Linked DNA regions of Homo sapiens. The protein of the gene in region 1 purifies or fractionates together with the protein of each later gene. This does not show direct contact. Each region holds a gene or a part of one and is shown on either strand. Other genes may lie near its edges.

Region 1 (3,653 bases):
GGACAGGCCAGCGATGGATGCTGTGCAGGCTCCAGATGTTTTGACAGGTTCCTGCAAGTCATTCTCCTCCCACTTCACCCTTGGCATCCAGGCAGGTCTCTGAAGTAGAAGGTTATGGGTTATAAACGGCCTAGCTTTTCACCATTTTGTGAAATCTTTTAGCAAACCTTTTCCCTTCTATTCATTCAGTAATTTATTCAACAAATAATTATTGAGGACCTGCCTGCCATGCATCAGGCCCTGTGCTAAGTTCTGGGGGAAGGATTCTGACCTCATGAAAATTACAGTCTAGAAAGGAAGCAGATAGTAAATAGATAACTAAACAAATCAACAAGATAATTACAGATTGGTATAAGTGCTATGAAGGACATAAATGGCAAAATGAGATGGAAAGTAACTGGGAAGGGCTGTACTATAGGGAAAGGCCTCTCTGAAGAGGGGACATTTGAGCTGAGTCCTCAAAAAATAGGAGTGGCTGCAGAGAGCTGCAGGAAGAACATTCCCGGCAGAGGGAATGCAAAGACAGTGGCAGAAAAGCCTTGGGGAGTTCAGAACGGAAAGGCCATGGCTGAAGTGTAGTGAGGAAAATGATTTTGGGTGAGTGCAGAGAGAAGCCAGGCTGTATAGGGCCTGGGACGCCATGATCAGAGTTTTCATTTTATTCTGAGAGCAACAAGAATTAAGAGAAGTGAGTAACATAAAGATCATTGTATGTTCACTGCCACATTGTTTGTAATAGCAAATTAGAAACAAATGTCATCAATATGGAACTGGGTAAATAATTTTAGATTCATTGCAGTGACATGCAGCAGTTAAAAACTGTGAGGCATATCTATATATATTGCCATAGAAGGATTTGCAGGATACCCTAAGTGGGAGAAAAGAGCTTAAAAATATGTTACAAAATGTATTTTTAAAAGAGGAGATGTATATGTATGTAGGTTTGCCTGTGTATAAAACATCACATAAAGGATATACAAGAGGGCTGGGCATGGTGGCTCACACCTTTAATCCTAGCACTTTGGGAGGCCGAGGCAGGCAGATCACCTAAGGTCAGAAGTTAGAGACCAGCCTGACCAACATGGTGAAACCCCGTGTCTACTAAAAATACAAAAATTAGCTGGACGTGGTGGCACATGCCTGTAATCCCAGCTACTTGGGAGGCTGAGACAGGAGAATCGTGTGAACCCAGGTGGTGGAGGTTGCAGTGAGCCAAGACTGCGCTATTGCACTCCAGCCTGGGAGACAGAACGAGACTCCATCTCAAAAAAAAAAAAAAAAAAAGGATATACAAGAAGCTGATAACAGTTGCTTCTAGGGAGAGGAACTGGGGCACAGGGTGGCCAGGGTGGAAGGGAGACTTACTGTTCATAGTATATCCTTTTGTTTGTTTAAATATCCTACAATGTGCCTGATCACTTATTCAGCAAGAAAGAGATGATGTCTAAATTGTGGACACCCTCATTGCTGTGCGGAGAATGGACTGAAAGGGCAAGAGCAAAGGCAGAAGATCAGTTAGAAGGCTCTGGCAGTGGTCCTGTTGAGGGATGGTGGTGGCTTGACCTATGGTGTTGGTAACAGAGAGGAAGAGAAGTGAATGGATTCAAGATTTACTTTAGAGGCTCAGTCAGCTGGGCCTGGTGTAATTATTGCTGTATTCCACACTGACATTCCCTACACCCACAGTTTAAGAAAGCTCTCTGTGCATTTGAGATGGGAACTGGGCTTACCTGACTCTACCCTGACTTCTCTGACATCTTTGTGGTGGGAAGGGTTCTTGGGCTCCTTCCAGGTGCTAAAAGCCTCTGGATTCCAGACAGTGAGTGATGTATCACAATGTGGAGGACATAGTTATGGACATTCACCCCTTTCATAGACACATGCAACAGTTACAAACAACTTTTAATGGCTATAAAAAAAAAAAAAGTTACACTGAAGAAACCCACTCATTTCTCAATGGAGTTTTCTTTCTTTGCAGAGAGATGCCAAAGGCCAGTACCTGTTTGACCTTCTTTGCCACCATCTGAACCTACTTGAGAAAGACTATTTTGGTATCCGCTTTGTAGACCCAGATAAGCAGCGGGTAAGTCAATATTCAAAGCACAAAAGGAGGACAGGGCTAGTCAATAAGACTGAGGTCTTGAACTGTCATTCATATTCAAAGTCAAGCTTCAGGAATCAGGGACCAACCAGACCCTGCAGTTGGATGTCGTCTCTTCAGATCATAGCATTAGACCTGGAAGGCACCTTGGCTAGAGCTCACCTGGAGAAGCTTGTCATTTTACAGTTGCTGAAATGGCAGGCTAGGGAGCTTAAATGATTTGCACAAAGTTGGAGGCAGAGCAGCTGGGCTGGAGTTGTGGTCTCGGAGCCCAAGTCACAGGGTGAGCCTCTCCTGCCCACTTTCTAGTAAGCAGGCTGAAGCACATTGTACTGGTTAGGAAAGGCCTCACCAAAGGTGCCATACCAACCCAATCTAGGCAGTACAGACAGAGCCAAACCAGCGCGGGCCTTTCAGCACCTTGCAGATCTTGCAGTTCTTGCTCTGCTCTACACAGCATAGGCAGCTCTGCAGACACAGGGCATTCTGATAGCCAAGGGTGCTGATATTCCAGACAGATTCAGGAACAAGTCCATCATCTCAGGCCCCTGCCTATTTCTCCAGCTTCATCTCCCCAACCTGCTGTGGTCCCGCCAGACAGTAATACTTTTGCCCTCCAGATACATCATACCTTCTTTCTTTACAGAGCCTTCACCTATAGAGTTCCCCTGCCTAGAATCTTCTCCTTTTCCTTACCGCTCCACACTCCACACCCTTCTTCCAGCTAACTCCTTTTCACACTTAAGGTCTCAGCTTAGACTTTTACTTCCTCTGGGAAATCTCCCCTAACCCCACTCTGTATTAGGGATCCTCCTATGGGCCCCCATGTGCCCTCTGCTACCCTGTTATAGCACTTATTACATCATTCTGTGATTACCTGTGTTCCCTGCAAAAATGTAAGTTCCATGAGGGCCTGGACTTTGTCTCATTCATCACTATCTCCCATTTAACTAGCACAGGCCTACAATGTAGTTGGTGTTCAATAAATATTTTCTGAAGAAATGAATGCATGAGTGAGTTAATGGCTTATAGTGTTGTATTTCTTACGTCCATTTGCCCAGCCTCCCAGCTTGCAGACACCTGCAGTTTCTATAACTTCCCTTCATCTACCCTTTGCTCTTTGTGGAGATGTACTCTCTGGCATCCCCACCAAAGTAGAGAGGTAATGATGGTGTTTCTTTGTTTGGTCCAAACTTTTATCCTTAAAAAGGAAGGCTGGCTGTGTGCACTGGCTCATGCCTGTAATCCCAGCACTTTGGGAGGCTAAGGCAGGCGGATTGTTTCAGCCCAGGAGTTCATGACCAGCCTGGGCAACATGGCAAAACCCCGTCTCCACTAAAAATACAAAAATTCGCGGAAATGGTGGCATGTGCCTGTAGTCCCAGCTACTTGGGAGGCTGAGACATGAGAATCACTCGAACCCGGGAGGTGGAGGTTGCAGTGAGCCAAGATCACACCACTGCACTCCAGCCTGGGAGACAGAGCAAGACTCTTGTCTTTAAAAAAAAAAAAAAAAAAGGAGGGCCAGTTACTCCAAGATCTCTTCATCCCC
Region 2 (3,653 bases), on another chromosome or scaffold:
CCTTATCTTTTCATTGCAGGATGACAGACCAAAGTTAAACAAGCCTCCGGTAAGTGTGACCATCTCAAGTATCTCTGGATGTTCTCGTTGTATTTAATACTTGTCAAACTGAAGGCAGAGGGTTTTTATTTACCTGACTGATGCCAGCACAGGTCTTTCTAGATAAATGAATATGTAACCTACTGGCTCAGCAAGTATTTTTTATTTACGGAAACCTGTCAGTATGATTTGTTAGGATGGCGTGTGTGTAATTTTTTTAAGGCTGTCAGTAAACTACTTTTTTCATCATAATTATCAATATATACCATTTGAAGAGCTACTTTTTATGGTAGCACGTGCTTCTGATCTAAAAGATTTGACACAAGCCTTATTTTCAGAGAACTTAAAATCTGAATGGATAGTGGTTTTATTACTTAAATCTTTAAGGGTGTGTCTCATGTCTTCTTCATCTTTAAGTCTCTTGGGCATAGTAGGTGTTCAATAAATACTTGTCAGATGAATTTAATGAAATTAAATAATACCCTTTTGACTTACTTTTCCTTGGGAAAGGAAAATAACTCTGGCAATACTAGTTTTATGTTCTGATTCACTAGCCTTTCTCTCTGAACTGACCATCTCACTTATATTTGAAGATAAATGTAGGGTGAGAATGGAAGAGCACAGCCTAAGTTCCTGAAAAGTACAAGTAGGCAAAATAGTTTCTAGTGTCTAATTAAAGGACTACAGGGGAAAGTTTTGCTTAAATCAAATGACAAAAAAGAAAGTATAATTTTTCGTTTTGGTGTAAATTCTTGGTTTCATTAGAGAAAGTGCAACAGCAAGACCCCACTGAGCTTGTGTCGAGAACTGGTGAGCTGATTTTTTGAGCTGTTGCTGCCAAGACATCATCTTTAATCTACAAAAGGATCAAAGCAGTTAATCCAATAATATAAGCATAAAGGCCACATTTACCTCAACATCCCTGATAGTACAATAAAAGTCTTGTGTAATACTATTTAGTACAAAGCAATTTTTTTTATATTCTCTCCTTATTCAAGAAAGACTTAAGTTCAATGTGAATGATATGAGTACTTCCAGGAGATAAAAAGTTGACTTCAGAATTTCAATGGCCTCTGTGACAATTGCTTAGAATCCTTGCTGTGAGTTCATTTGACTTTAGCATCTTTTTTGAGGCTACTTTTTGGACAGCTGAAATTCTGTGTTGCATAAAGTTTTTCCTTTTTCTCTGAAGTCTCTTAAGGGAAGAATATATATTTTTTTTATCATGTGTTCAGCATGTTAATCATTTTGGTATAAGTCATTTAGCTATAGCAAAACAAAGGTTTAAGATTCATTAGATGAACTTAGATGACCGCAGGGCCAGCCGTCTCGCTAACCATAAAGACTACAAGCAGAAAACACTTGTAGGTGTAAGATTGTACATGTGTCTCCTGCCATAACTACTTTCAGTTTAAAGGACAAAGACTTTCTTCCTTATTTGCTTTTAGAACACGTGTATTACAGCCTATACTCTGTTGGATTAATTGCCCATTACTATTTATTGTTCTTATTTTCTATTTTAAAGTGGCAGTTACTTTGATACTGAGAATATTTTGGGAACAGAGCAAGTTTATGTGGTAAATTCTGGGACTTTAGCTTTTAGTATCAAAGAAAGCTTTCCTGACAACATTGAGGCACAGCCCTTTGTGCGTTAAGACATGGCTTACTTCATTCCAGCATTAGCAGTTGATACTTGATCAGCTTGTTAGATGTAGAAGGTCTCACTGAAGTTTGAGAATCACACTAACTTTTTAAAGTAGATTTTTGTTTGTTTGTTTTTGAGACGGAATTTTGCTCTTGTCACCCAGGCTGGAGTGCAATGGCGTGATCTCGGCTCACTGCAACATCCACCTGCTGGGTTCAAGCAATTCTCCTGCCTCAGCCTCCCGAGTAGCTGGGATTACAGGTGCCTGCCACCATGCCCAGCTAATTTTTGTATTTTTAGTAGAGATGGGGTTTCACCATTGTTGGCCAGGCTTGTCTTGAACTCCTGACCTCAGGCATTCGCCTGCTTCAGCCTCCCAAAATGCCGAGATTACAGGTGTGAGCCACGGCACCCAGCCTAAAGTAGATGTTTTTACTCTCTTCAGAGATTTTACAGATTAACTAACTTCTGAGTATTTTTTAAACAACTCTTCTTTATTGTGACTTTGCTTCAGTGAGAGCAGAACCGGAAGAATGTGGGACAAGAACTTGCTGGCCTTTTTGAGAGGCCATAAGCAGATGAAATGAAAGGAAATACATGAGCATTTTTCTGGATGTATCTTTCTTGTGCTTTTGGTTTAGTGGAAGTAAAGAGTGTCCTTAGGGATTTCTTTTGTCATGTGTCTGTATAACCATCGGCCGATCTCCAGGTTGAAGAATGTACACTGTGGTCTAAAGTTTTGAGATGTTGCCTGCTTAAAATATCTAGTTGAATAGTGAAATAAAATGCAGTAAAGATTATTAGCTTGAACCTGCCCTAAGGAAAGCATAGTGTTAAGTTACCAAATTAAGATATTTGTAGACTTAGAAATCATGCATTTTAATCTAACATAAATGTTTCTATCACATTTGCTTACATAGAGAATATTAGTCGTAGCAATACCCCTTCTTGGTTATAGTTTTGAAAGCATTCTTGTAGAAGTTATTTGGTCCTCACAGTGTCTCCATGTTAGACCTGCCAAGGGAGGTAGGTACATTGCAGCTGGGAAGTGTTAAGCACCCGGCTCACAGACGTGCTCCAGAACCATCTAGCACCCATCTCAGGCTGGTCAGTTGCAGTCCCTTAAGCTTCTCCTCTAGGTTCTGGGCTTGCCGTGTTAGACATCACTCTGTCAGTATTTTAAGGGAGATAGGCTTCCCACTAAAGTTTACGTTAGATGAACTTATAAATGAGATGACTCTGATTCACAAAAGCTTGTTGGGCTTTGCATGCTTTTCATAATTTATGGAGCTTACTGTAATTTACACTGATTCACATGACTTTTATAAGTCATTATGCATGACATACTTATTTTACTTTTTTGAGACGGGGTCTCACTCTGTTGCCCAGGCTGCAATGCAGCGGCATGGATCTGGACTCACTGCACCATCCACCTCCCGGGGTCAAGCAATCCTCCCACCTCAGCCTCCCGAGTAGCTGGACCATAGGCACACAGCACTGTGCCCAGCTAATTTTTGTATTTTTCTGTAGAGACAGGGTTTCACCATGTTGCCCAGACTGGTCTCGAACTGCTGGACTCAAGCAACCCGCCAATCTCGGCCTCCCAAAGTGCTGGGATTACAGGCCTGAGCCACCATGCCCAGACTTTGACACACTGATTTAATTGTTAACCTCTTTTTACTGAAGTTGAACCTCGAAGTCATGGAGTGAACAGGTGGCAGAGCCAATCATAAAAACCATATTCTTTCTCCTTGTTCATTGCTGACATTCTTTGATAGTCACGTCCCTAAACCCAAGTGAGGCCCTCAGAGCACTGACCACTAAAGACCAATTACTTTTCCATCAAAGTGCAAAGTGGTAATTCAAACTTCCTTTAACTGTCAAGCATCCTGGGCTACAGAGCCAAGAAGATAATCAACAATCAAAAGGTGATACGATTATTTCAAGTTCCCCTCTTTAGAGTTCATGG
Region 3 (3,653 bases), on another chromosome or scaffold:
CAGCTGTGGGCCTCGTGCAGGGACGCTCAGGCTGCTCCCAGCGGGACCACAGTTTTGGCCTCTGAAACACAGCTGAAGAAAGGCAGAGTGCTTTCTGTGATCTTTTAATCAATGTTTTCCACTTTTGCATTCCTAGGCTGCCCGCCTCACTGGAAGAACTTCACAGACAAATGCTACTATTTTTCAGTTGAGAAAGAAATTTTTGAGGATGCAAAGCTTTTCTGTGAAGACAAGTCTTCACATCTTGTTTTCATAAACACTAGAGAGGAACAGGTATGCCTGCCACATACTTGGTTGGGGAAAACTATAATTTAAGGATAGTTTACATCTGGAAATTGCAGGCTTGTTGGGGATTCAGAGATATCACGAATTCCTAGTCACGTAAACATGGGAGGCAACATTACAGAGATTTGGGTTTCATCCAGTGGCTAGAAGCATTCGTGGCATTGGAATTGTATCTTCATGATTCTTCCTGGAAGATATTGCCTATCAAGCCTGGAGATGTGTGGCTCCTTCTGGTGGCTGTTGAAATAATTATAATGCAGAGAAGCTTGAGGGCTGCCACCAGGCACCTGTGGGGACAGAGAGAGGCATGAACACTGTAGGGATGGAGTGGGGTGCAAGGGACCACGCATGGCTCCAGAGGAGTCAGGAAGAGCGAAGAAGGCTGAGGAGGCAGAGCCCACGCATGCTAATGCTAGTGTCCACTCATTAGACCCTCTATATGCCAGGCACCGTGAGAGGCATTTGCTCCCTTGAACCTCACAGCAACCCTAGAACATAGGTATTATTATTACCCTCATTTGACGGCTAGGAAAACTGAGGCCCGGCAAGGTTTATGCAGACTGAGACCAAAACTGCAGCCCATCTAGCAACAATGCAGCGCTTTCTTTGATACCACACCAATTCCAGTGGCCTCCTCCCTTCTCCCTAAGTTATCTCCAGCAGACACAATCCTGTAAACAGATGTTTCCTGTAGTAACTGACTGGAATGAGCACACGGCAGACAGTGACCAAGCACCTGGGCTTTAGAATACACAGACCAGGGCCCAAGCCCAGCTCAGCTACTTCTCATGTTTGTTCAGTGGGTTGTTATAAAAGCTTGGAGACACACTGCGTGCAACACACTGCACGTGGGGCCCAGCCCAGAGGAAGTGCCCAAGAATATCATGACTATTCCTATGATTAGGACATGGGAGAAATGGGTGGGTGGTAGGAGGAAGTGGGACCAATGGACATTCACTGGGTTGTCTGAGTGATTTAGAGGAAGAGCCTCACTTTAACATCCGTTGTAAACTTGTAAGAGGAAAAAAGTCAAAGCCCCCCAAACAGCACAAAACAAAGCAAGTAGCAAGAAAAAAGCAGAAAGCAAAAGCAGGCTACACATTCTGACAACCATCCTCTTTTAAATTGTCCTTTTTTCTAAATGTTAAATAAAAGAAAAAGGCCTGAGACATCTGTTCTGAAAAATAGTCACGCACCACCCCTGCTTTGTTTTTCAGCAATGGATAAAAAAACAGATGGTAGGGAGAGAGAGCCACTGGATCGGCCTCACAGACTCAGAGCGTGAAAATGAATGGAAGTGGCTGGATGGGACATCTCCAGACTACAAGTAAGTACTCAGAAGCTTCCAGATTGGTGGTCAGGCTCTCACTGTTCTGTTGTCACTTCTTGCCCGACTCCCAACAGTTTCTTCCTTAATGACCTCGTGTCCTAGACGCTCCTCCCAAACCGGGGCTCCTGGTACCAGTTGCATATTTCCCCTGGGGAAATCGTGGTTGACAGTTGATACGCTGTCAAATAAGGCTTTCCTTTCTTCTTTTCATGGAGTGAATTTTTTTTCATTTCTAAGAAAAAAATCATGAAACTCATAAAACCACACAGCATAATACTTCTGGCCAAGTCATTTTCTTTAAATGCTATGGGAAAAGATGATGAAGCCCAGGCAACCTCAGGCATGTTCAGCGTTCGCCCCAGGCGTGTTTCCAAGGACTGGGGAGCTCCCTTCAGGATCACACTGTGGGTGCCCCTGACCCCTAGTTGGGCTTCTAGGCAGAGTGTGATTAGAAACTACAAATGAGTAATTTTCCTGGCTGGGCACAGTGGCTCACGCCTGTAATCCCGGCACTTTGGGAGGCTGAGGTGTGCGGATCACTTGAAGTCTGGAGTTCGAGACCAGCCTGGCCAACATGGTGAAACCTCGTCTCTACTAAAAAAACAAAAAAAACAAAAATTAGCCGGATATGGTGGCGCATGCGGGTGATGCCAGCTACTCGGGAGGCTGAGGCAGAAGAATTGCTTAAACCCAGGAGGCGGAGGTTGTAGCAAGCCGAGATGGCGCCACTGCACTCCAGCCTGGGCCACAGAGCAAGACTCTATCTCAAAAAAGAAAAAAAAAAAAAAAAACTACAAATGTGTGATTTTCCTACTCATAGTAAGTTAAAATACACTATAAACAAAGTTGCATTTGCGGGATAACCATCCCCTAGAGGTTTGAAGATTCCCCATAAGTTCCATGTGACCTAAGTTCTATGAAAGGAGCAACAAAGAATAGAATCACTTTGAGGTACCTTCTTGGATAACCTAGAAGTCTCCAGGGCCTCATCCTACCCTAGGGGGTGTTAGCTCCTTCCCTAATTCTACCCAAAGATCTAACAATGACTGTATTGCATCAGTTTGATTATCACATCTCCATACTCTGGCTTTGCCTCTGACGGGTGTGAAAATTGCAAGGAACTGTAACAAATGAAGCAGAATTTATAAAAAAAATAAAATTAAAAAAAAAAAAAACCCTCTGAGTAACCTTTAGTTTGCTGGGGACGGAGAGGCCAGACCCTGCAGGGCTCCACCAGGCACAGGAGCATCACCGCATTGGAAGCACCTTCTGAGAGCACTAGGCAAAGTCCACGGTGTGGCCTCTGGGGCTGTCCCAGGAGAGGAGAAAACAAGGGTGTTTCAGGCCTAAGAGAGTCTCATGGGCATGGAGGCCTAGCCCTGTATCAGCTGAGCAGCAGGGAGGAGGGTCAGAGGTGATGGAGAAGCCAGATCGAGTTTTTTAAATGTCCCTATGTGCGTGTGCATGTGCATTTGGATAAACAGGCTCTTTTGTACTTTCAAATTCTCCATGTGAGTAGGATCAGAGGATAAAGGAGGAAACCAGAATAAGGCCATCTCTCTTTTGTTTTTATTTGTTTGTTTTTAAGGGACAAGGTCTCACTCTGTTGCCCAGGCTGAAGGGCAGTGGCACGATCATGGCTCACTGCAGCCTCTTATCTCCCCAGCTCAAGCGATCCTCCCACCTCAGACTCCCAAGTCCCTGGAATCACAGGTGCACATCACCACACCCGGCTAATTTTTAAAGTTTTTGGATAGACGTGGTCCACTATGTTGCTCTGGTTGGTCTCAAACTCCTAGCCTCAAGTGATCCTCCCACCTTGGCCTCGCAAAGCACTGGGATCAGAGGTATGAGCCACCGCACCTAGCCAGGCCAGCTCTTTATAAAAAATAAACATGTGGCGAAATATTGATTTGGAACATTAGAAGATTTTAGGTCTGCTCTGAAGGTGAGCCTCAGACTGCCCTTAAGGGCAAGTGGATATCTGCTGCAGGCCTGTCAGAGACTCGTCGGCTCCTCTGCGCCTGTCCTGGGGAGA

The links.
Region 2: the proteins of FRMD5 (region 1) and CYB5A purify together in Homo sapiens (co-immunoprecipitation; one large-scale study listed by IntAct). This does not show direct contact.
Region 3: the proteins of FRMD5 (region 1) and COLEC12 purify together in Homo sapiens (affinity purification with mass spectrometry; one large-scale study listed by BioGRID and IntAct). This does not show direct contact.

Annotation. Positions count from the first base shown.
Region 1 is NC_000015.10:43,922,635-43,926,287, reverse strand, and holds part of FRMD5 (FERM domain-containing protein 5), read left to right. Parts: intron 1-1,978; coding exon 1,979-2,083; intron 2,084-3,653. UniProt on the Homo sapiens protein: May be involved in regulation of cell migration. May regulate cell-matrix interactions via its interaction with ITGB5 and modifying ITGB5 cytoplasmic tail interactions such as with FERMT2 and TLN1.
Region 2 is NC_000018.10:74,257,311-74,260,963, reverse strand, and holds part of CYB5A (cytochrome b5), read left to right. Parts: intron 1-19; coding exon 20-49; intron 50-3,653.
Region 3 is NC_000018.10:329,627-333,279, reverse strand, and holds part of COLEC12 (collectin-12), read left to right. Parts: intron 1-136; coding exon 137-273; intron 274-1,502; coding exon 1,503-1,612; intron 1,613-3,653. UniProt on the Homo sapiens protein: Scavenger receptor that displays several functions associated with host defense. Promotes binding and phagocytosis of Gram-positive, Gram-negative bacteria and yeast.